5 separate regions of the Homo sapiens genome follow, and all the other regions are linked to region 1. The links come from fine-mapping of genetic effects on gene expression. A gene starts in region 1. Each other region holds a variant in brackets. All regions are shown on one strand. Distances are from middle to middle.

The links.
Region 2: its variant is fine-mapped to the expression of PTGER4 in whole blood (TOPMed, PIP above 0.99).
Region 3: its variant is fine-mapped to the expression of PTGER4 in whole blood (INTERVAL, PIP above 0.99).
Region 4: its variant is fine-mapped to the expression of PTGER4 in whole blood (INTERVAL, PIP above 0.99).
Region 5: its variant is fine-mapped to the expression of PTGER4 in whole blood (TOPMed, PIP above 0.99).

The regions. Positions count from the first base shown.
Region 1 is chr5:40,676,788-40,681,894 of GRCh38, reverse strand. PTGER4 (prostaglandin E receptor 4) reads right to left here and starts at 1,980. Exons shown (of 3, transcript NM_000958.3): 1 at 1,417-1,980; 2 at 35-944. The coding sequence starts at 901. RefSeq lists an enhancer at 435-962 and a silencer at 2,098-2,317.
Region 2 is chr5:40,396,301-40,401,407 of GRCh38, reverse strand. No RefSeq gene overlaps it. Among named protein-coding and RNA genes, the nearest start is that of LINC00604, 160 kb to the right of the region's middle. The variant A/G (reference allele first, on the strand shown) is at 2,611.
Region 3 is chr5:40,754,644-40,759,750 of GRCh38, reverse strand. TTC33 (tetratricopeptide repeat domain 33) reads left to right here and starts at 3,790. Exons shown (of 5, transcript NM_012382.3): 1 at 3,790-3,927. PRKAA1 (protein kinase AMP-activated catalytic subunit alpha 1) reads left to right here. Exons shown (of 9, transcript NM_006251.6): 9 at 1-362. RefSeq lists an enhancer at 3,767-3,916. The variant G/TG (reference allele first, on the strand shown) is at 2,536.
Region 4 is chr5:40,305,031-40,310,137 of GRCh38, reverse strand. LOC105374736 (a long non-coding RNA gene) reads left to right here. Exons shown (of 4, transcript XR_001742649.2): 3 at 1,066-1,154; 4 at 1,513-3,365. Among named protein-coding and RNA genes, the nearest start is that of LINC00604, 67 kb to the right of the region's middle. The variant T/G (reference allele first, on the strand shown) is at 2,092.
Region 5 is chr5:40,407,268-40,412,374 of GRCh38, reverse strand. No RefSeq gene overlaps it. Among named protein-coding and RNA genes, the nearest start is that of LINC00604, 170 kb to the right of the region's middle. The variant C/T (reference allele first, on the strand shown) is at 2,562.

The DNA of each region.
Region 1 (5,107 bases):
AAGGCCGAGTAGGGCCCCAGCCCCGGTCACTCACCACGAGCGGGATGGAGCAGATGAGCACCACCAGGGAGGTGGCAATGAGTAAGATGACCATCTGGATCTCGGCGCCCGCGATGCGGCGGAAGCTCCGGCGGCGCCGAAAGTCGCTGAGGCGCGGCAAGGCTGGGGAGGCAGCGGGGTGGCCCCGGGAGGCAACCGAGGCGGCCGCGGCCGCGTGGTGCTGCTCGGTGCCCAGCGAGGTGCGGCGCATGAACTGGCGGTGCATGCGGAGCAGCGCGCCGCACACAAGCACGTTGCAGAGGACGGTGGCGAGAATGAGGAAGGAGCTGAAGCCCGCGTACATGTAGGAGTAGGCGGCGTGCGCCGTCACGTTGGTGGTCCAGTCGATGAAGCACCAGGTGTCTGGGTACTGCAGCCGCGAGCTACCGAGACCCATGTTGGGCAGCGCGCAAAAGAGCACGTTGGACGCATAGACTGCAAAGAGCGTGAGGCCCGCCAATCGCTTGTCCACGTAGTGGCTGTAGAAATAGGCATGGTTGATGGCCAGGTAGCGCTCGACACTCATGGCGCAGATGATGCTGAGGCCGGACAGGCTGAAGAAGAGCAGAATGAAGGTGCTGTACTCGCACAGCGGCTGGCCCCCGGGCCATTGGCCCTTCATGTACGTGGCGATGGTCACCGGGCTCACCAACAAAGTGCCCAACAGGTCGGTGACAGCCAGCCCACATACCAGCGTGTAGAAGGTCGTCTCCTTCTGCTCCTTGCGCGACTTGCACAGCACCACGATGGCCACCAGGTTGCCCACCACCCCGAAGATGAACATCACCGCCGGGATGGTCACTGGGCTGTTCAGCCGGTCGGGGCTCAAGGAGGCGGACGAATTGACCCCGGGAGTGGACATGATAGTGGCTGGCGGTGCGCAGCCTTGGAGTGCAAGGCTGGGTCTGGGGATGGTAGAAGAGAGACAAAGCTGCCGTGAGCGGAAATTACCACTTGTAAGGTGTTAGACCCGCGCCCGAGAAACGATACACTGATAAGACAAGGGGAGCAACTCGATCCTACTTTCTGGATTGTAGCCACTTACCAACTGCGGCCACCAAAATCTCCAGGCTCGCGATACGTCCTGCCAACAGCACACTCTTGCTGACATTAATATTTATAAACTGATTTTCCCATTCCTCTTCCTCCCCACAATCCAACTCACTCCATTGCCAAGATGAATAAGACCCATCTCAAGGGAAAAGTAGCTCGCTAGTGCTATTCTCGATAGATTCTGAATCAATAAAATGCTCACTGAAAACAAGTTACAAAAGCAATTTGGAGAGCGCGCTCTTCCCTTCTTGGCTCTCTTCGGCGAGGGCCGCATCCCTGCGTTCTCTACCCGTTGACCCCAACGTCAGCCCAACGCCATCTCACCTGTAGCGGCAGCAGCGGTGGCAGCCTCACGAGCCCCCAGGGTCAGCCCTCAGATGTCCTGGACCCGCCTCCAACCTGCTTTCACCTTGTCCTGCTCAGTCTGGAAACTGCCAAATCTTCGGCTTCTCAAAGCCGGTCTCAGTGGCTGTCGATTTTTGGACACCGAGGTCAGAGTTGCCAGCTTTCAAAAACTTGGGAAACAAGAGGTGCAGCGGGATGGGTCAGTGAAGAATGGTGCTGGATTTCTTACTCGCTATTTTTTTTCCTTCAAAGACGAGTCCCAGCTTTGCAGTGCCCGCCGGTCTCGTCTGCGGGAGGACAGCGTTCAGGTGTGAGGCTGTGCGCGCAGGTGGCGCGGAGCCTTGGTCCCCAGCTCTGGCTGCCCTCCGCCCCAGCCACGGGCAGCACGGGCGGCTACTGGAGTTTGCGGCTGCCGCTGAGGCCGCTCCTGGCTACCTGGGGGCGGCTCGGGGTCCACTCTGCCAGAGGCTCTGGCCTGGGGCTGTTCATCTTCCTCTCGGGCTGCCGGGCTTGGAGCTCCGCTCTCGCCTTTCCACCCTCTGTACAAACTTTTCTCCTCCTCCAAGTTTCCCTGGCGGAGGCGGAGGCAAACCGCGCGCTGCCCGGGCGCCCATTGGCCGGATTGGAAGGGGGCGGAGCGCGTCCTCCCTGGGCGCCGCAGGGAAGACTGGCGGGGGGCGGTGTCTGGGCTGGGGCGGGGCTGGGCGCGCGGGGTGGGGCGGCTCCCGTGGTTTTCACGCCCTCGGAGGTGCGGAGTGGGAACTCGGAGGGGACCCTGGGAAGCCCCGGTGCTTTCCCCGGCGACCGCTTAGCCGCTCCTGAACTCGGCTTCCAGTGGGGCCACCACTGAAACCGGCGACCGTTTCCGCCTCGCTGCCTGCCGCTCGGAGTGTACTATTTCTTGAACCTCCTGTCCGCGGGCCGCAACATCTAGATCGTGGAAGAGAGGGCAGTTGTTTTAGGATTCTACCTAGGGTTGGCCGAGAAAGGAGAAGAAATACGGTGTCTGCGCTAGCGCGTGCGCCCCGGGGTTAGACTTGGGTGCGCCCAGCGGACGTGGTAGGTGGGTGGGTGGGTGGGTACCAGATTGGGCGGGGAAATAACGAAGAATCCATCCTCTCACCATAAAAGGAGTTGGAGTCAGTTGGCAGTGCCCAGACTGCGGGCTGCGCTTGGTCGGGCACCCCAGGCAAAAAAGAAAAAAAAAAAAGAGAAAGAAAGAGGAGGAGACAGTGATTGCAGCCTCTCCCGGCGCAGGTGGCAGAGCCTTGCGGCTTTGGAGAGAGGTGGAGCCTTGGTGAGGTTGGGAGGACTGCCTAACTGCGATCTTTTTCTCCATTCTTCCTCCTGGGAACTTCTCCGCCCTGAAAGGGTAGCGTGAGCTTCATGCCTTCGGCCGGCCGTGTTATACTCGTTAGACCCAATTCACCATGAATCCTTTGAAAGACTAGTGGAGAGTGAGAAGGGGGTTTCAAAGTCACTGGAGTAAAGGAATTCTCCAAGCACCACCTCATGATTAATTCTTGGAAAAGCCTGTTTGCGCGGCCCTTAGAATCATTTTGACTTCTTGTCTAATGGTGAAGTTTTTCTCTGTAATCCTTCTACTCTGTTTTCTAAAACCAGAACTAAAAACCTAAAAAATTGTAAAACTTCATGGTGTAATTAAAACCCCTTCACCATTTTTTTTAAGTAAGATTGTGTGGCCTTATTGCACAATTTAAATTCCTGGAAAAACCTCTTCCCATCTGCAGTGTACAAGCATTCTAACATATTATGTCTCCTCACAGGGTAAGTAAATAACTGGATTCTTTTATGTGATAAGCAGGTACCCATTTCTTAAATGTTATTTCGTGAACGAACAAACCTCCTAACTGGTTCTTCAGTTAGTCTCAGCAACACATGGGTAATAAGAGAAACTAAAAGGGCTTTCCGATTTCAAGTAATTACAGGTCATAAAATATCCAGAATCATATTTACTTGCAAAAGGCACTATATGGATATACTAATAAAGAATTATTCTGTTTATACTATTTACTTAATAATATGAGAAAGAAAAATACACATTTGTTAGCCAATATTAAGATTGATGGTGATTGGTCATTTTCTTAAAAATCTTCTTTTAATCAGTACTCTAATCACTTCTGTTGTCGATGCTTCCTTTGAACAGTAACCTCTAGGATTGTGTCAGCACAGAAAACAAATCAACATTAGAAAAAAGGAAACTGCACACTCTGCGCCATTCCTCACTAACCACATTGCTTTGCTATCACTCATGTCAGTTGCTTGTCAGTAAATATATGGAGGGGAGGTTGGGAAGTCCCTTATATTCACTTTCTGCTAATACAAATTTTTTTTTTCAATTTTCTTTCCATATGAAGCTTGTAAAAGAGAAAACAATTGGTTGCTATTTATTAATTTAAGAATGATGAAGAATATATTAAATATAAAAACTGAGACACACTGCTGAGATAATTAGTAACTGTTACAGGTATTAGCATGTCATTGACAAACCAGACTTGTTATCAATTGAGCTATTTTTCTTACTAGTCCTTTGAATTTTCTTTCTACAGTAGCTTTAGGAAGAAGGAAAATAAATAACCTAATGCTCAATACTAAAAAATTGTAATGAGGTTTATCTGTAGTCTCTTTTGTTGTACGATTCTTAAAACTTAAATTTAGCTTTCAAAAGTAGAAGTTGAAAGTTTAGGTAGCAAATTATTTTATTTTCTTAGTTTGAAAAACTGGGACAGTGGAGCTCAGTTTCTCTTACACTCTGCCAGGAATTTGCATTGCAAAAGGAAAGGAAAAATTGCCATAATTATGTGGGCAATTCTTGTCATTTTTTTTCAATGAAAAGATTTTTATTCTAAGCACTTTAAAAATTCTCCCTCGCAGTTTCTGCCACAATCCCTACTTCTCTATGCTGGAAGACCCCAGTTCAGTTATTTAAAACTGTCATTAAATAACTCTCTGAAGGTTTGAACTACTCCAAGAACTGTTTGATCAGTTTGATTGCTCTGTTATAGCTAATTATTTGACGAGTTTTTTGAGTAAACATATTAAGGTGGGAACCCATTTATAAACAAAGGCCGCTTGGGAGCTAGTAACCACTTTTAGTTTTCCTTGGATCAAAGGAAATATGGGACAGACAGGACCTGGGCTCAGCCAGCAGGAGTGGGGTGAGAAAGGGGATCATTTCCAGGAGGAAGGCAGCAGGATGAGTCAGATCTGGCCTGGACCCCTTCCTGAGCCGCAGCTGGCAGGATCTTAGAGCATTCCTGAAGCACTAATATTCATGTAGCAAAGCCTGTGCAAATTGTGTTTGCTTTTCTCTTTCATGACAGGCCATGCAGAGACTCAAAACAGTGTGAAAGGCATCTATCAGGTACAAATAGCAAAGTACCCTTGGACACATTTGCCCTCCACAGGCTCTTCCAGTTGGTTTAGTGGATTACAAACATGGCATTCACCTGACCCTAAGATGACTGCCTTCCCTTTTTAGTGGTACATTTCAAATGTGTGCCCTCTTAATTATTTTCATTTTCTAAGCATGAAGTTTATGCTGAGCCCAATGCCTGGAGCTGACACATGTCAGTGCTGTGATTAACTCCCCAACATCTTCATGTGGTGATAAATTACTGCTGTGGAGGCTGGCCCCTACTGAGTGATT
Region 2 (5,107 bases), 280 kb after region 1:
AAACGTGACTGGGAGGAAATGCTTTGTGAGAGGAGCCTTGGAGGAGAGATATGTGTGAATCATGGCCAAAAATCAGCTCAGTGGGAACCTAAAAAAACATGATGTACAAAACTTAAGGAGCTCAATTCCGCTTCAGCACTGTAGGGTGACTATAGTTAACAATAATTTATTGTATATTTCAAAATACCTGGAGGAGAAGACTTGAAATATTCCCAACACAAAGAAATGATAAGTATTTGAGGTGATGGATATACTAACTACCCTGACTTGATCACTATACATTGTACCCCATACATACGTACCTTTTTAAAAAACTGTACATAAAACTGTACAATATATAATGATATGTATATGTATACAATATATGATAATATGTACATGATAAATATGTATAATGACACATATGTATATACTTACCCCATACATATGTACAGTTTTTTAAAAATAAGGTAAAGGAAAGTCTAACAAGGATTGTGGCCTTGAAAATACTATAATTAAATCATTAATTCTCACCTTTAATTCACCTGGAAGAGTTTACCCTGCTCCCCTATCCCATCCCATTCCATTCCAATACACACATATTTTAGGTAAACTGATTGAAATTTTTTTTCTATTATGGAAGTTGGTTGTCCCAGGCCAAGAAAATAACCTACCCTAAAACTGTATTTAAATGCTTGAAAACTTGAGTCTCAAAAAGGGATGCAAATATGAAGTTATGTCCAAAATTCCCACTCATTAGAGAATGTAAATGAGAACAATATTGAGATAGCATCATTTTGCTGATCAGACTAGGGACAAATAATCATGCATAGATGGTATTGGCACTCCCACCCCCACATCCTTTTGGCCGATCCCAGAGTTTGTCTGCAGACATTTCTCAGACATGACAACAAATTCCTGCACCTTTCCTCCAGTGGGCTATCTTTGGACACAGGAGCATGCTTTGTCCCTGCACAGGTCAGATGGGAAGTAACTGAGCCAGAATGCCTTGGAGTACCTCCAAACTACTAAGGGCTGGTGAATAAATACTTCACATCTTTGCCTTTTGTTGGAACAATCCTAAGTTGTGTTCCATATGGCCTTTCCATGGGTCTCCAGAATAATTGAGCCCAATTGCCCATACAGTAGGGTAACCAACTTATCTCTGCTTTTCTAGAACTGTCCCAATTTTAGCATTGGAAATTCTGTGTCCTGGGACACCCCATTGATTCCATGCAAACTGTGATAGTTGACCACACTACGAATAGAGGTAACTGGCTAGTCAATGTTCTGTCTATTTGTTCCCCACTTCTTGTCTTACTCCTTGCAACCTCATAGTGATTCCTGGAATTAACTTCAAAATAAACTACAGATGCTCCCCCATTTACAATGGGGTTATGTCCTGATAAACCATTGTAAGTTGAAAATATGACTAAGTCAAAAATGCATTTAATATACCTAACCTACCAAACATCATACTTTAGCTTAGCCCACCTTAAACATGCTTGGAACACTTACATTGGCCTATAGTTGGGCAAAATCATCTGGCAACACAATGTACTGTACAGTACTGGTATTTTTACCTTTGTGTGGCTGAGTGAGAGCTGCAGCTTACTGCATGGCCCAGCATCATGTGAGAGAATCACACTGTTTTCTACTGAATGTCTATAGTTTGTGCACCATTGTAAAGTTGAAAAAGTATAAGTGGAATCATTGGAAGTCAGTGACCATCTGTATTGCCTTCACATTTTTGTCTCAGGACCTGCTTTCAGGGGAATTCAAGTGAAGCCAGTTGATGATATCCACACTGTGAGGGTGTAAAGAAATAAGGCGACTCATACATTGTGTGGAAAGCAGAAATTTTCATAGCCCTTTGGAGGGTAATTGAACAGGCTTATGAAGTAAGAAAGTAATATGAACTGTCAGTGTGACTCTAAAGCTCATGACTTGCATTTTAAAAATGCATACACTTTGAATCAGGAATTCTTTGTCTAAGACTTTCTTTAGTAGTAATGCCCAAATGAGCACAAAGATGTAAACATGAAGATGTCCTCTGTGGATTGTCACACAATAAAAAAAATTAAAAATATCTGTCAATGTATGTCAAAATATCACTAGTAGGGGAATGATTTAGCAAATTTGTAGTATAAGCATTCCATAAAACACTATGAAGCTATTAAAAAGCATGAGGTCAATTTGTATTATACTGGTAAGAGAGACGTTTATGATATATTAGTAAGCAAAGATAATCAAATTAAAAATGTGTATCATGCTTTCTATATATCTGCATTTTTTCTGTCTCTTCCTGGAAACACGTGTATACACACACACACACACACACAAACACGCAAACACACAAATTATTAACATAATACCACTGGAGTGGGAGTTGACTTGGAGGTGAAGGTGGAACAGAAGAGGTTATGAAGGAAATTGCCTCTGTTTATTTAACGATGATAATGATGAAGTTTCTTTTTACAATGGGTGCATATTATTTTTAAAATGGAAAAAATAGAAAATGCATTGCATTTGGAAATGAACACCTGAAGTATGCTTCATCATTTTAATTTTTCATAAACTCCATCAATATTGGCAGCAAGAGAACTCGAGATTTGAGCTGTATGTTCTTCT[A/G]TCTTACATATACCAGTGTAAAAGTGTGTTGTAACCAAATTTAAGCATATAGGTAACCTAAAAGGTAATTCATTAGATAAATTGTCCTATTGGATAATTGGTAGATATCCAATGGCTGTTGACACCATTGTGTTATAATCAATTGCTTGCTCTTTTAAAGATGAGAAAGACCACATAGAACATATATTAGGCCGGTGCAAAAGTAATTGCAGTTTTTGCAATCGAAAGTAATTGTAATACTTCAAACACTCATTATAGTTTTCAAAAGCAAAGAAGAAAAACCATAATTACAAGGGCAAACAGGAAATTAAAATCAACTCTAGATGTATACCTAAACCTCTTCCATTTTTTTTGTTTCTTTATTCAGGAAATTAAATGATGTTGAATGACAAAGATCTGCAATCTCTCAAGTGGTTGAGAGGAAGTATGACATTGACTTAGGAGAAGACTATGGCAAATGATGCTGTAGTCAGGAAGAATGAATAGATTTGAAAAAATACAGAGAAAAACTAACCACAGAAAGAGTCAACTCATTGTTGCCTATGGGTGTTTTTGTCTCCAGTTTGTTTTCCATAGACTTCAATGAGTGTGGATGGGTTTGAGAGATTATGTACTCCCTAGTCACAGTGAATCTAACAATGAAGTAAGAAAGACATGTGGTTGGCGCTGAGAAACATGGTCTCTGCTTGGCCATGTGATTATGAGCAAAGCATCCTCAGCTTAACCTTCTGTAGACTGGGAATAATTATGTTAACTACAAGTTGCTCTGAAGATTAAATGAGAAAATGTACACCAAATCACTTGGTTTAGATAGCACTACTCGTGTTGATTTTTATTATTATTCTATTTCAATTTTTTAAAATTCTTGTGTTGGAGTGAATAATAGTAAGAAAACCAAAAAAACTTAAGTAATACATGATTTTTGTAAAACTGCTCCTCATGACCTTTAACATGATCAATGTGGCTGGTAGATATCCATGGATACTCAGGAGGAACAATTAAGCTGACATTGATAAGAAGCAGCAAATAGTGTCTATTAAACCTGCTTGGTTAATAATATAGGGTTAATTCATTCAACTGGTATTTATTAAGTATGAACTACGGTTCATGCACTGTTTTAGATGCTATGGACAGACAATATTGAGTACAACAGGGATTCCACCCCAACAACTTAGAATCTAGTGCAATTTAAAAGCATTAAAAATAACAATCATAATTCCAAATAGAATACCAACAGCTGGAATCAGTCAGTCCTTTTTCCTACTAAAATCTCTTTAATCATACCTCCAAAACATGGACCCTAACTATAAAAATACAGAGATTTTGTCCAGTTCTAAAGTTCTGTGAGCGATTACCCTCAACTTGGGTTTAGCAGGGAAGGCTTCACAGAAAACTACTTTTGAGTTCATCTTTGAAGAATGGGTAAGATTTCCCTAGGGAGGGAAGAGGAACATGGCTTTTCAGGCTGTGGGAAGTATGCAATTTCTCTGGCAAGTGTCAAGGGTGGAAGGATGAAAGGGGGATTGAAAGTGGAAATTTGTAATCACGTGTTGTCACTAGCCAAATTCTCTGTCTCAATTGTCTTTATCCTCTCTTCACCCAGCACTAAGATGCTAGAAGAGCTGATTCTTCTTACTCTTAGGTGACATCTTACAAGCTAATGTGAATGGAGGACCACTGAAAGATCCTCCTAACCTCCAAATTCTAGGACCGCAAATCTGCTGAAATGCCAAAATTTCCATCATGAGGATTAGGGCTTCAAATTAAGTCATGGAGGGCATTCTTTTAAAGATATTCATAAAATTGGTGGTGGTGGCTTGGTTAGTGACCAAGATGATAACATTTTTCTATGAAATCACTCATCTAAGTTAGAAGGATGTAGGGATTTCCTAAATATGAAAGAGAAAAAGAGGAATGGGCTGGGGCAGTAGTCCTTGCCTTGAAATTCCTGAACTCACTGGGGTTTAAGAAACTTAACATCAATTGGTATAATGATAATAATGCCAATGATTACCATAGCAGCAAAAGCAACAGCAAAAACAATGAAAAATTTGTTTTCATTGGGTGCTTATGTTATGCCTGTGTTTTACATACTTTCTTTATTGTCACCATACCTTATGGGCTTGATTTATTATTCTCACCTTCTAGATAAAGGAACTGAGACTTGAAGAGGTTAAATAACTTATTAAAGATCGCAGAACCAGTTAGTGGCATAACTAGAATATGAACTTCTGTTAGTGTGACTCCAAAGCCCATGACTTGAGAACATCAAGTCACCAAGGGGACAATCAAAACAAACACTGTTTACACCATATCTTTATGTACATTCAGACCTGGGTACATAAGAGGATCATGCCAAATAAGGGATAGGTAGTGGTAGAGCCATGGCTCCAGTCCCCTTCTTTGGTCACCCTTGGTTATGGATAAGTTATGGATACTAGGAAGCACTTTGAATCAATCCCAGTGTGTTTTCACTCTGAGGTTTCTGTGGTAGATT
Region 3 (5,107 bases), 78 kb before region 1:
CTGCTCTTTTTGATGTTGTAGTGACACCATTTACATTGAATTAATGCTTGGTAGCCTGGGGCTAGATGTGGAACTCCATGGATCTGTGTTCTGACTGGCACCTTTGGAATGAAAGAAAAGTGTGTGCTGTCCAAATTTTTTCCCCTTAATTCTTTCCCTCATCTTCTCACCCATAATAGAAATTTTATTTCCATTGTGAGTTCTGACAAGAATGAAATTCCACATACAACATAACTGTAAATTGTTGGTAGGTAGAAGTTAATATTTGTGGTTCATGTATATTTTGACCAGAGTATATTTAAGTATATAATTTCAGCTTCCTTGATTTAGAAATATGATATAATAAAGAAAAACTCCATTTATCATCTGTTACAATGTACTTATGTTTTTTAACCTCTGGGAAAACTCAGTGGAAAAAAAAAAAACTAAGTATCTGTGCACCTTTCTTTCTAACAATGTACCGGCTAGGTGCGGTGGCTCACACCTGTAATCCTAGCCCTGTGGGAGGCTGAGGTGGGTGGATCACCTGAGGTCAGGAGTTCAAGACCAGCCTGCCAACATGGTGAAACCCCGTCTCTACTAAAAACACAAAAATTAGCTGGGCGTGGTGGCGGGCACCTGTAGTCCCACCTACTCGGGATGCTGAGGCACGAGAATCGCTTGAGCCTGGGAGGTGGAGGTTGCAATGAGCCGAGAACATGCCACTGAACTACCAGTCTGGGCAAAAGAGTGAGACTCTGTCTCAAAAAAAACCCCACCAAAACAACAACAAAAAAAGTACCTAGAAATATAAAATATAGTGCCTGGCCACATTTAAATTGTCAAACATTGTGATTTTTATCTCGACTACATGAGTCTTGATTTCATCTAAAAACCAACCACTTGAATAAAACATGATAGATACAATAAAAGCCAAAGCAACTGCCATTTATCAGTTGCTAACACTTGATTTGGTTAGAATCCTACTACTGTTAGAATTCAATTAATATTAAATATTGTATCCATATGACATGATTAGGCAGGGGCTTGTGCTAGATTGTTGACACTCTGTTATCTTTAAAACAACAAAAGAAAACTGCTAAAGAGTGCTATGAGTAGTATATAAGGTTTTTTTAGGGAATGTATAAATTGCTGTAGGTATTTACCTTGGCTGTACAAGAATTGTCCAAGAAATTCTTGTTTGAAAAATCAGAATTTTTGAACTCTTTTATTTATTGTAAATAAACTATTTACTGTAAATGCCAATAAATTATGATAAATTTAAAGGATTTTGGAAAATGATCATGTTGTCTTAAAAAGACAGCATAAGACATATATTAAATATATTAGGTGAATCAAGATCATAGACCAGTCAGAGTTAGTAGAGAAGTAGTGGGTGAAGTATAAAAACTTAGTGGGAGCTACCCTTAAACACAGTAGAGGAGATCAGGGTTAGGTTACTTGAGAGATTTAGCAAAGACCCCTAGGTAGGGGGCACAGCTTCAAGTACCATTTACTCACTCTGCAACCTCTATTCCTTCTTATTGGCTACTATGAACTAATGACACTATGAATGTGACCATAAGATAAATCTTCCCTCTGCATGTCTTGTTAGGGAGGTACATGTTTTCTTATTTAAGACTTTCATAGACATATATACAGAAAAGTGCACAAATGAGTATTTGGCTTAATGAGTTTTCAGTATTTCAGGTACACAGGAAACATGACCATGTAAACCTCTAGGCAGATTAAGAAACATTGCCACCATCTTAGTGTCTTTCATAATTAATATCGGAAGTGATAAACGGTCACTTCTGCCCTCTTCTGTAGGTAACACAGACCAACCGTGGTACAATATAGGAAGGCAGTGCATAAGGATGTGAATGCCAGGAGTGAATGCCATCTTGGAGGCTGGCTACCGCAGTCATGCATTGATCGTTTTCAAATACTACTGGTTCACTTATGCAGCCTGCACAAATATTGATGTATTTAAGCAAACAATGTAAATAAAAGTCACAACTGATAATCACTTATATCAGAAAATTCTGGAGATACTGGGAAGCTGCCAAGATCATTATGGTGAATACCATTTTTCCAAAATCATATTTTTTTTTTGCCTAAAATCTTGAATTTTATCATTGGCAACAAACTCAATTTTTTTTTCTTTCCTCCCTCCCTCCCTATTTCTCTTTTTTCCTTTCCTTTCCCCTTCCCCTTTCCCTTTCCTTGTTTTTCTTGAAGTTACAGATTCCCTTTGTTCATTTTCAAGAAAGGTTTGTCAAATACCCAAGTCCGAATAACCGGTTTGTCACTCATCTTAGTAAAATTTGTGTTCCAGGAAAAAAAAGTATTTACTTCAGTTTATAATGCCATCTCACAGTAGCTCTTCTTTGATACGTCATACTTCAATATGCAGCAGAAGTACTTTGTGAGGACTTCCAAGTTTTTACAAAGAATATTAAGTGTCGGAGTGGTTATAATAAAGTAACTTTTACAACTTCATCAGGGATATTCTCTGGTGACAGCGTTCATTTTTCCATTTTTTTTTTTTTTTTT[G/TG]AGACCGTGCCTTGCTCTGTCATCCAGGCTGGAATGCAGTGGCATGACCTCGGCTCACTGCAGCCTCGACCTCCCAGGCTCAAGGGATCCTCCCACCCCAGCCTCCCGAGTAGTTGGGATTCAGGTGCGTGCCGCCAGGCCTGGCTAATTTTTGTATTTTTGGTAGAGATGGGGTTTCGCCATGTTGGCCAGGCTGGTCTCGAACTCCTGACCTCCCAAAGTGCTAAGATTACAGGCGTGAACCACCGCGCCCGGCCCATTTTTCTTACTGTGAGCGTGTGGTGGTGAAGAGCTCCAGTACGGTTTGGTGTCATTACTGTAATTCCTGTGGAGGGGCCAGCACCTTGACCTACCATTGCTTTTCCACCATCAGTGCAAATGTCAGCATTGTGCAAAGGGCAAATCACGTCTTCATATTAGTATGAAAATAATTTTGGCTTTGAAAGGGTGTCATTGACCCTCAGGACAATCGTTGGTCGACATCAGTGGTTCTCAACGGGGCAGGGTGGGAGGGATAGTTTTTCTTCCAGGGGAAATTTCACTGGGGAAACCATTGGCTGTCACAATCGACTGGTGGTGACATCCCGTGGACAGAGACCAGAGATGCTGCTAAGCACCCTACAATGCACAGAACACCCCGTCCCCCAACAAAGCATTATCCAGTTTGAAATGTTAATGGTGCTGAGGCTGAGAAAGTATGACTTCCAAAAATGAGTCTTTTGGGCAGGAGAGTTGGAGAAATTAACAATCTTGATTACCTTTATTACATGTGCTCGTTTATTTTCAAGACATGATGCACAGCTACGTTCTGGCTGTAATTCTGCCTTCTGGGTCCAACTCACTTGTAACTTTAACGTGAAGCCTGCAGTTCAGCCTCGAGCCTCCCTGACTAGCCTCCCCGCCCGGCCGCCTCGAGCCCTTTATAACCGAATTTTGCCTCTCTGTTCTCTGCGTCTGGCCGACCTCATCAGCTAGGCTATAAACCCCTTCGGGGAAGGAGCATATCCTAATCCTTTGAATCCCGTAAAATAAGTTTTCCCCTCACCTTGTTCCCCACTGACGGGACGCGAGGCTGCGCGGTACCGCGGGGGCGGCTCCTCTCGGTGCGCTCTTCAGCCCGCGCAGCCTCATTTTCCCGCGCTCGTGCGCTGCGGTCACTCAGGGCTGCTGCTAGAGGGCGCGCCCAGCCGCGTGGCCCTGACTACTACAAATCCCAGAAGGTCATGCAGTGGGGGCGGCCGCGGTGACTTCTGGGATTTGTGGTCCCGGAGAAGAGATTGGCGGAGGGGAAAGACTGAGTCGTCTTTCCTTTGCCCGCTTCTGTGGACTGTTCGAACGCCCAGGGGTGGGCCAAACCCGTTTCTTAGGAAACCAGGAATCCAGGGAAGGCAGGTAGGAATTTGGGCGTGATAATTTCTGCTTCCAGTGGGAAAGAATGTAAACACGGGGCCTTGGGAGCCGTTATCGGGTAACTGGGGCTGCCCGGTCGGCGGTGGAAGCTGAGGAAGAGGAGGAAAAAGAGGCGAGTGGGTGTTGTGATTAGGGGAGAAAGGACCTTCGGAATAGGAGTTGAAACCCGACGGGATCCGGCAGAGCCTGGTCGCTAGGGTTGGTCTCCAGGGACAAGCGAGTCTGAGGGTCGGGCCCGCCGTGGCACCTTCGCGGAGCTGCGCGGCCGCAACCTTCCCTGAGCGGTGGGACGGGCGGGACGAGCCGGCCGCTCCCCGCTGGAGAGGTGTCTGCGGCCCGGGGCGGTCCGTGAACGCGCAGGTGACGTCCGGGGCAGCCTTTCTGAGCGTTTTTATTATTGTTGACCGATGAAGGGAAAGTCACTAATACTGGTTTTTCTCTTGCGGTGGCGTTTTTGGGTAAATCGTTTCTTGGATTCCTCACCTCTGAATACCTCCTTTTACCCAGAAGGATGCTGTTGTGATTTCCTGATCTTGTTCATGTAGTGGTTTTTCCCTTTGGGTGCTGCATCCTCAGACACACTCAAGACAAGCCCTCTCTGGCGGCTGGGTAAATGTGAAGCCGTCGCCAGTTGTTGAGCGCCTACTATAGGGATCTTTGTAACAGTACAGGAATTTAGAATACAGCGTCGTTGTTTAGAATCGTTATGCCATTCCTGAAATATAATCCTATATAAAAGGTTGAATTTGTCTGGTTTCATGAGTTTAACATGAAACCGGTGTGGATTGTGGTTTACTCTCATGGTTTCTTACTCTGGTAAAAAAATGTTAAGTCTAGGATGTTGAAGCCTCGTGCTTCTAACTAGACTCAGGAAAGCCTCCTTCATAAGAAGTTTTAATTTCATGTTCAGATAGTCATAGAGGAACAATAAACTCGTTCGGCTTAAGATATCTGAAACAACTGGGAATGTTAAATTTTCTAATGCAGAAAGTGCTTTGCATGCTCTAGGATTCACATACCTTTTTAAGCCTGGCTAAGTTTTCTTCAAAGCTTAAGTCCTCCAGAAAGCCTCAAGTGTCTCTTCTCTGATGTCATGGCATCCTTTGTTTACTCTCTTGTAGCACATATCGTGTATGAAATTGACTGTACTCTGTGGTTTCCA
Region 4 (5,107 bases), 370 kb after region 1:
TACTTCAGTTGAATCTAATATTAACTCTAATACCATGCTTGCCAAAACTTCCATTAAAGACATATGCCTTGACTCATTGATTCCAATAATAGGGAAAAAGCACCATTTCCCAGCAGCTGGAGATTTGATGTTGCTTTTGAGGAAAAAAAATGATCCCGCCAAAATATTTATATAGCTTGAGAACTCAAGAAGCCCCTTAGTAAGTGGGCAGGATTCTATGATCTCTAGTAGCACAGGAATCGCTAGTTTTTGAGGAAGTCTAAAATGGCTCATAGAGAGCACATGGATGAGACAAGTAACATAGAATAAAAGTTAAAGTAATAATGTTGGGAAGGACAGACATCTAGAAGAGAAGCAAAAATAAAACAAATCTCAGACTAAGAATAGTATCATCATTAAACTTAAACTTAATACTCAGATTCTCAGTAGCCCAGGCAAGAGGGAAACTAGATGATGATGTAGTTCTTATTGTCTAACTACAAGATGTACCTATTTTAGCTCATTAAACAAAACCCAAACCTTTTCCTGGTCCTTTGATTAGAGGTGAATATATTATGATGTCTTTATGTATTATGACAGCATTGAATAATATTATGAACCTCAACCTGCAGGTTGGTAACCATATCTATAAATGTAGTCAAGCACACAAAATTATCTACTCAAAGCCTTTTTTCTTTTTACTAAAAATTCTTACAGATTACACGTTCAGTGTTTTTATTTTGATTTTTTTACCTTAGCCCTTGGTGACAGTCAAAAACTTTAAATGATAATTATGTAAAGACAAGTTTACAGGGGCCTGGGGGTAGACATTGAGTGATATGTTCAAAATACATACCTGTCATGTATGTACAGGATAAAACGTTGGCTCCAGGCCTTGCTTGCACTTCCAGATTTATTCTGACATTCTCATATAAGCTTCTACCATCCATTTCTATTGAATCATCTGCAGTTGCCCTGAATATGTCATGTTGCCATTTGCCTTCTTGCCCTTTCATTTGGCCTGCCTTTATCTGGAACACTTCTCCATAGCCATTCAATTTTGCCTTTTTCTTATGCTAACTCTAGCACTGCCTACTGCCTAGGGGAACAAAGGGCATGGTGCTGGGTACTTATAGGCACCAGAACATTCCTGAGGACTCACACCACAGGGAAAGGTAAGCTATTCACTTCTTGTGCCATCCACTCACAATTTTAGGGAAAGGTATATAAATTAATGGATTCAATAAACATTAAACTAAATGGAACATTTTGTCTCTTTCTTCCACTAACCAATGTCTTGGGCTTAAGTGAAAGATATTTAAAGAAAATTAAGAAATTAAATTTTCTATGTATTTCTGAGTGGTAGCATGATGAATTTTGTGACCTCTCAACATGCCCAGTGAGGAAAAAAATTCTTTTTAAACACACTGTAGTTATAGAAGATATTTGCCAGGGTGTATGCATAAAAAAGTTTCATAAACCTTGGATGCCAGGCCACAGACAAACTTCTAACAAGTCCTTTTTCCTTCTCAGGGCTCTGTACTCATTGCTCTTCATCCCACTGCTGTGTGCTATTGTCTTTGTGATCTTCATGATTGGATTTTGCTTCTTCAAGGAAGATATAAAAGAGCCCAAGTAATTCTGGAAACCAGCATTTTACCCTTGACCTCCTGCTTTTCATCCTACTGGTCCTCGCCAGAAGTCGCTGGTTGCCTGGTATAAGAAAACAATCATAATTATCTCATTAATACTTGGACCTGGCCTCCCTGCTAATCAGGTTTGTACTGCTGAGATTTCAAAGGAGAACAGAAATCTACTAAGAAGAAATAAATTGGTTCTCAGGCTATAAATAGTTCTAGGAAGCTGCCCAGGGACAAAAATTTGCCTGCTGGTGAAATAAAAGACCATGTAAACTGTAGATTTATTTGGAGAGTATAGTTCCATGAATTTAACTGGTCTAGACTCTGGGCCTCTGGAAGGCAGAGACCATGCTCTCAGCCTTGCCTTTAGTACCTTGTCTGTAACAGGCTATCAGATATGTTGATTGTGTCAAAGATAAGCAAATTCTGAAATGAGTAATTTTTTTCATTCTCTATCCTCTCTGAATTCACT[T/G]AGTGCCTCTCAGAATGTGTCTGAGTGGAAAGGGATTTGCACAGGATATGTCCAAACAGGTTATTGTAACTTTGGAGGTAAACTCTTGTCTATCATTCCATGCACTTCATTATTATTTATATCCATTTCTTTCTTTCTTTCTTTGTTTATTTATTTAAGTAATTGGTCATGAAATAGACTTGCATGCTGAATACTGAAATGTGGTGTTTGACACTTGTAAATTATTCCAGATTATATATGAGACTATAATAGATAAAAGTGATTTAGATAATAAAGTGATCTGTAATTGAAGTAAATGAGAGCTGGGTGCTGTGGCTAATGCCTTGTACTCCCAGCACTTTGGAAGGCTGAGGCAGTAGGATCGCTTGGGTCCAGGAGTTTGAGACTAGCGTGGCAACATAGCTAGACCCTGTCTCTACAAAAAGTAAAAAATTAACCAAGTGTGGTGATGCGCACCTGTAGTCTCAGCTACACAGGAGGCTGAGGTGGGAGGATCACTTGAGCTCCAGATGTTGAGGCTGAAGTGAGCCATAATCATCCTACTGCACTCCAGCCTGGGTGACAGAGGAAGACCATGTCTCAAAAAAAAAAAAAAAAAAAAGAGAAGTAAATGAAAACTTAGAGAAATAGTAGTTGCAACTTCCAAACCAAAGCTTGTAATTCTGGTCACTATGACTTGGAAATATTTTCCAGAACAACTGTGACTCTTGCCGTTGCTCTATAAAATACTGGCAAGGTCCAAAAGGGAATTTTCCCCCACTGTGTATAATATTATTAGACAGATGGTATTGTATAGATGTTCATAATGATAATTTTTTAAAATTAGCACAGCAAATATTAACTGAACATGATCTTCATGTCCTGTTCCACACAGGTTGTATTTGTTGATGTGGACTCTGATAAAACTGAAAGTTCTTTACTAATGAATGCAAAACCATCTCATTGCTTACATTCTTTCTAGAATTTGCATATGCAAAGATACAAATTCCAGAAATAGCACTCAAGAGAACAGTCTGTAGAAATCTTGTCTAACAACTCTAAATTTTCAATCAGCATTGAATCAGAATTATAGCCATAGTTCTCTGAATTATTCATGATAAATAGATGACTGGCTACCCATGGGACTCTGATACAGCGCTTTCAATGTGGTAAAATAATTAGAATTGTCATATCCACTCTTTGTAAAATTATGAGAACTGTTATTTATTAATAGCAAATGTCATAACATAATCCAACTGTTATTTTCCTATCTAATTAAAGAATATGTGTTCTGATTCTGAGGCTTAATTGTTTGTTTACCAGCTGGAAGCAAGCAATGTAAGGAATCTTTTTTGTGTGTGTTCTTAATTTCCAGATGATCCCCAATATGCCGTGGTTACAGAGGGCATGGTCACTTGGTAGGATATCTACCCTTGGAGATGAATTTCTCAGGGATTGCTTTTGAACCATCATTTATTTTCCTTAGGAGAAAAGTAGACAATACCATAAGTAAATACGCATTTTTTTTGTTTTCCCGAAACCTAGAAATGTCAGAGCTAATAAAGAGCAATTAGGAATGAAAATACAATCCATTGAATCAGATAAGAAACAAACTTAGCAGGCTGCTTCTTGTTGCTGTTATTCAATTCATAAAAAAATGTCATCCACTCAAAATCATTTGATTTTCTGCAGAAAATTCCTTGATAAAAAAAAGATCCTGGGGTTTATGTAGGGCATTACCCCATTTAGTGAAAAACTCACCCATTTCTTTCCTCCATAAATGTGTCATTTTTAGATCAACTAAGTACCAAGGAAGCTATTCTCTGATATAATGAAGAGAAAAGAATCTTGAACCTGGTAAGAGTGGTTTCAAGCCAAAACAGATAATTTCTACAGAATACAATAAATGCTCTTTGGCTCTGTGTAGTGATATTGCCTCCCAGACATTTTAAGACTTAAAACCTAAAGAATGGGTTTATTTTAAATTAATAAATGAATAGAAAAGAATAAAATCTTGTTTGTTAATGTCAAACTTCCCTAGCCTTTTTCTAATCATCTTATCAATACTTTGTATTTTTTTCCTATCCCTTTTCATTCTTTTGGCATTTACTCAAGGTCTCTCTTTTGGCCTTTTGTTGCTCTGTGTTCTCTCTCTAGGCCATCTCAACCACTCTCATCACTTCAACCATCTTGAATGATTTGGAAACCTGTATTGGGTTCCAACATTTTCTTGTGGTCCAAAGTGATAACAACAACAAGCTGGGCATGGTGGCTCATGCCTGTAATCCCAGCACTTTGGGAGGCCGAGGTGGGCGGATCACCTGAGGTCAGGAGTTTGAGACCAGCCTGGCCAACATGATGAAACCCCGTTTCTACTAAAAATACAAAAATTAGCTGGGTGTGATGGCTTGCACCTGTAGTCCCACCTACTTGGGAGGCTGAAGCAGGAGGATTGCTTGAACCTGGAAGGCAGAGGTCGCAGTGAGCTGAGATCATGCCACTGTGCTCCAGCCTGGGCAACAGAGTAAGACTCCAACTCAAAAAAAAAAAAAAAAACCCACAAAGTGATAACAACAATAATGGCAACATTCATTGTATACTTACTATGTGCTGGGCACTGGGTTAACAAGTGAACACGCATAATCTCATTTAATTCTTACAACCACCTGTGAGGTAGATGCCATCATCATCTTCATTTTGCAGGAGAAAAAACTAAAGTTGAGTGATATCACACAATTCTCCTAGAGTCATGCAGATAATAAACAACTAAGCTGGGTTTTAAACCCTGACAGTTTGACTCTAAAGTGAGTGCTTTTGTTTTCAACCACCTGCTAAGCATCTTCCCTTGAATCTCCTATAGGCCTCTTAAAGCCAATCTACATAAAACACATTTCCAATTATTCCTGCTTCCCTTTTGGCATTAATTCATGTATTCAACCAATAAGAATTAATCAAGCATCATGGAGAGTCACATGAAAGCCTATGCACTAAGGATAAAATTTTGAACAAAATAATAGTGGTTCCTGCGTGTATAGAG
Region 5 (5,107 bases), 270 kb after region 1:
ACTGCAGGTGTGCAACACTGCATCCAGCTTTTCTTGATCTGTAATTCTTTAAATTTCTAGGGAAGACCAACATGAAAGAAAAATGTAAGCAATGGCAGTGCAGATGTGGTCTGGTGTCAATCTCCAGGGTACAATGGAGAGACTTGGAACCACATGCCCAGATGGAATGAGCTGTGCACCTGGGCCTCAATGGAGAGTCTTTGATAAATGGAAGGTGGCTTCCCAAGCAGTATGGACTTGCCTTGAACCAATGGTTTTTGTATTAGTTTTTAATTGCTACTATAACAATTACCACAAACTTAGTAGCTAAAGCAACACAAATTTATAGTCTTACAGTTCTGCAGGTAGGAAGTCTGATACAGGTCTTACTGGGCTAAACTCAAAGCATCAGCAGGGCTGTGTACATTTCTGGAAGCTCTAGGGGAGAATCCTCTTCTTTGCTTTTTCCAACTTTTAGAGGCTGCCCACATTCCTTTCCTCATGGTCCCCTTTCTCCATCTTCAAAGCCAGCAATGGCTGGTTGAGTTCTGTTCACATGGTATCACTTTGATCTTCTCTTCTGTCTTTCTCTTCCACTTTTAAGAACCCTTGTGATTATGTTGTGCCCACTCAGATAATGGAGGATGATCTCTCTATTCTAAAGTCAGCTTATTAGAAACCTCAATTCCATCTTGGTTCCCTTTTTCCATGTAACCCAACATATTCATAGGTTCCAGGGAGTAGGATATGAATATAAGTATTTTGGGGAGTCTTTACTTGCCTACCACAGTTTCCTAAAGAGTAAGGTGACTGGGGAAAAGAGGCATGTTTCAGCACATAGGGCTTATTCATTGAAGACTGGATGTTTGACTTGGAAGGAAAGCTTCCTTCCACTTGGCCAGTGAGATGCCTTTGGCAGTCACGCACACTGGCAGAGCACTAGTAGTGGAAGAGCTGTTAGCTGGCTAGCAGATAGGAGGGGAAGAGGCTGTGTCATACCTGGAAAGCCTGAAGTATCCTTGTTGCCTGAGGACAACTTGATTAAGCTGTTTCTAATGTTTGTAGAGAAGGAAGGTACTAAAGGTTTTTCCCTTAGCGAGGGAAAAGCCAAGCTGCTCCTCAGGTCAGGCATGGAGGGATGAGTGGAGAGGACCTCCTGTAGAGTTGGAATCTCAGTTAAAAGAGGTGGAAATATGAGCCAAATATATCTTTGATTGAAACAGAAACTCCCTTTCTTTCCTTTTCCCTTCCCCACCCTCACTTCCTTCCTTCTAGCTGCCAAATTTGTGCTGTTGCTGTGGTTTGGGAAGCTATGATTACATAAGCACTGCTCTTGTCTAAACAGGCTGTGTCCATAGTGTGAAAGCTAGGCTCATTCATATAGAAAACAACACTAAAGATAACAGCAAAACTTGACATCCACATTCGAAATTTTAAACTTATATTCTTTTAATGAGAGCGAAAGCAGTAATTAAAAAGGGCATGATTGGGGAGTGGGGGAGGTGTACAAAATTTACTTTAAAAATGGTACTGTTGACTGTTGGAGGCTTCTGATTTTTTTACGTTAAGCAAAATGGAAATAGTTGATTGAGACCCTAGAGAAGAATCATGTGATCTGAGTGAAAAGAAATCCACAGCGATTAGTCATCCAGTTGATGTCAAATAAATCACACAAAATGTTGCCTGTATATCGTGAAATGACTTTCTATTTTTTCCCCAGAGCAGACTACTCTTATCTTAGGTTGGTTTCCATGCATACCTAATTCCTGTTGTTTGGTGTCTGTGTGGACAGAATGATTGAAACAGCTGTGGACTTGCCTGACACTAAGTCATCAGCTATTGGAAAGAGTGCTTTGAACAAAGACATCATGCGCTGCCTGAAGGGAAGAGGAAGCCACAAACAGCATCAGAACATGAAGAAAATGTAGGTCACGGCTGCTACCCTGGTGATAGGGAGTACACTTTTATACCTTCATGACGTTGAAAGCATGAGAAGGATGCAGGGGGAATATACACCAGGAGACACATCATCTCTGAATACAAAGCGTAGAAATGTGTGTGTCTCAGACTTCCTTTTTCTTCTGAGTTAGCTCATTTAAGCAATCATATAATCGTACTTGGCGGATGGTGTGGGGCAGGGTGCATGTTTGTGCACTGTTACTGTGGAGATCTATTGCATATATTTTTAATTTTTACAATAGTTTTTGAAGGCTCTTTATATAAAAACAAAGCAAATACAAAACATTAATATACAAAGCATCAAGTCTTTAGCAAGTCTTTTGCCAAAATGAGCTTATTTCAGCATAAAGTGGAATAGCAAAATTTAAAGGAAGGGTAGGTGGCAACCTGATGAACTCCTTTCAATAAAAAGGATGTCCTAAATTTTCTTCTGTATTCATTTCTGTGCTTCCAATTTACTTGGCTCTAGATGTCTTAAATATGCTCCATGAACAGCTTTACTCGAAGGCACTAGGAATTTACAAAGGGGGAAAATTTTTAAAAAATATTGTCACACTGTTCTTTCTCCATGAAGTCCCACTTTCGCTCTTTGAGTGCTTCTTGCTGAATGTTTGCACAACATC[C/T]GGCTGCCTTTGCAGACGTGCCCTCCCACTCATCTCTATGGTTCCTTCTCTCCTTCCTTGGGCTGAGTCCTCCCCTCCTCTGGGGTCTTGATGCTTCCCAGAGCTCCTCCCTGGTAAAACTCTAAGCTGCTCTTGCAGGCTATAAGTTCATGCCCTTCCTTATGCATGGAGAATACTGGAAATAGAAGGCAGGTTATTTGTATCCATGACAATCCAGAACATTAAATTCGTCTGATAATGCTCTTTAACTTTTTGCAAGTTCTACCTGCTTTAGGCCCATCTGATAAGAATTTTAAAAAGAGGTTGGCAAACTATACCTGAGGATCAAATTCAGCCCACTGCCTCTTGTACAGCCTGTGTATTAAAGACCAATTTTATATTTTCAAATTGTTGAAAACAATTAAAAGAAGAATAATATTTCAAGACACATGAAAATCATGTGAAATTCCAATTTTGGCATCCACAAATAAAGTTTTATTGGGATTCCATTGCTTTCATTTGTTTATGTATTGTCTAAAATGTTGTTTTTGCACTACACTGGCAGAGTTGGCCTACAAAGCTGAAACATTCACTCTCTGGCTCTTTACAGAAAAAGTTTGTCAACCTCTGATTTAAACCAATTTTAAAATTTACATATTAATTTGCTAATGGTACACAAGAGAGAAAAATTTCCCAGGGCAGAAATTATATTTTTATCATTATTAAAACCTTAGTGGTTAACACAGTGATGTACTTGTAGCAGTTACTCAGTAGATATTTGTTGGAGAGATTTACAATGATCCAGCTTCTATGCAGCCTTTGGAAGAATATCTGTTTGGGGAAGCTTTGCCAGCAGGCAAGAGATTCATGTCTTTTCTCCTTAGCTTTTCTCTTCTCTGTATACATGTTGTGGAACATACACACCTAGAATGTAATCTTCTTTTTAACTGACCACAAAAATTTGGAATTTATCACACTTTCCACAATTGGAGATTTTATTCTAAAAATTATGTACTCTACTCAGAGGCTGTGTACTGGTTATCTATTACTGCATGCAAGTTACCCCAAACCCAGTGATTTAAAATAATAACCATTTTAATAAATTATTTATTTATATGACATACTTTTGTGGATTAGGAATTCAGGCAGGGCTTAGCTGGGGATTCTTCTGCTCCACACGGTTTCACTGGCATTACTGGAGAAGTATTCAGCCGGTGCCCAGGCTGCTCTGGAGGGTTCTGTGCCTGCTGCCTTGATGGGGATGGTGGGAAAGGGGGCTCAGCTGGCCCCTTCTCCATATAGTCTCAGGGCCTCTCCGTATGATCTCTTGAGCAAGGCAGTCAGAGCTGTGGCGGCTCAAAGCTCCCAGAGACCAAGGTGGAGACTGCCAGTTCTCTTAGAGTTAACGCCCAGAGGGCAGAGTGTCATTTCGGCCACACTGCATGCATCAAAGCAGTTACAAGCAAGCTCAGATTCAAAAGGAGGGGAAATAGACCCCATCTCTCAAAAGGAAGAGTGTTAAAGAATTTGTGGCCATCTTTAATCTGCCATAGGGCGCTTCTAGTTTGATTTTTAACTTCACTTATTTCCGTTATGTAGGACAGCCTCCTTTGTCCTTCTAACATATTATCTTTCTTAAACTGTCTTTTATGTTCTCATTTCTGAGCCCTGGAATTGTCAGGTGTCTAGACAAAGAGAGGACCAGCTCAGACTGGGCAGGGTTATGAGGGAATAGCCAAAGGACACTGGGTACCTTTTTCAGAAAGTGATTCTTCCCCAAAACAGTCTACTTCACCTCCTAAAATACTTAAAAGAGAAGCTAGGAGGCCTGCAGGCCCACCCTGAACCCCAGCTCTCCGGGAGAGAAGTTCTAAACTACATTCCTATATACTATACTTAAGGACATCTTACATAATATCATTTGGAAGATATACTTTTTTTTTTCTTTGAGGCAAGGTCTCACTCTGTCACCTAGGCCAGAGTACAGTGGTACAATCATGGCTCACTGCAGCCTTGGCCTCCTGGGCTCAAGTGATCCTCCCACCTCAGTCTCCCGAGTAGCTGGGACTACAGGTACCTGCCACCATGCTCAACTAATTTTTCTATTTTTTGTAGAGTGGGGTTCCACCCTGTTGCCCAGGCTGGTTTTGAACTCCTGGGCTCAAACAGTCTGCCCTTCTTAGCCTCCCAAACTGCTGGGATTACAGGTGTGAGCCACCACACCTGGCCTAATTTATTTTTTTCATTCATTGGAAAGAAGAATCAGCCCTGTCTTTCACTGTGTAGAAATAGCTAAAGAAAACACAAGCTAAGATAATGTCAGTTTAGGGCCTGGTTTATAGAATTTTTTGGAGAAAATCTAGTCACTTGTAACACACAAGAAGAACACAAATGATAAGCACACAGGATATAGATATTTAAATACATCAACATTTTATGGACAGGTAAGGTGTTCCAAACACTATAATATTTCTTCATCATCTGGGGCACTCCTTCTGCTGTGGTTTGATGACCAGAGAGGTCAGCAAGGTTATAGCCATATGTAGATTCACCAGCTGAAAGAGAAA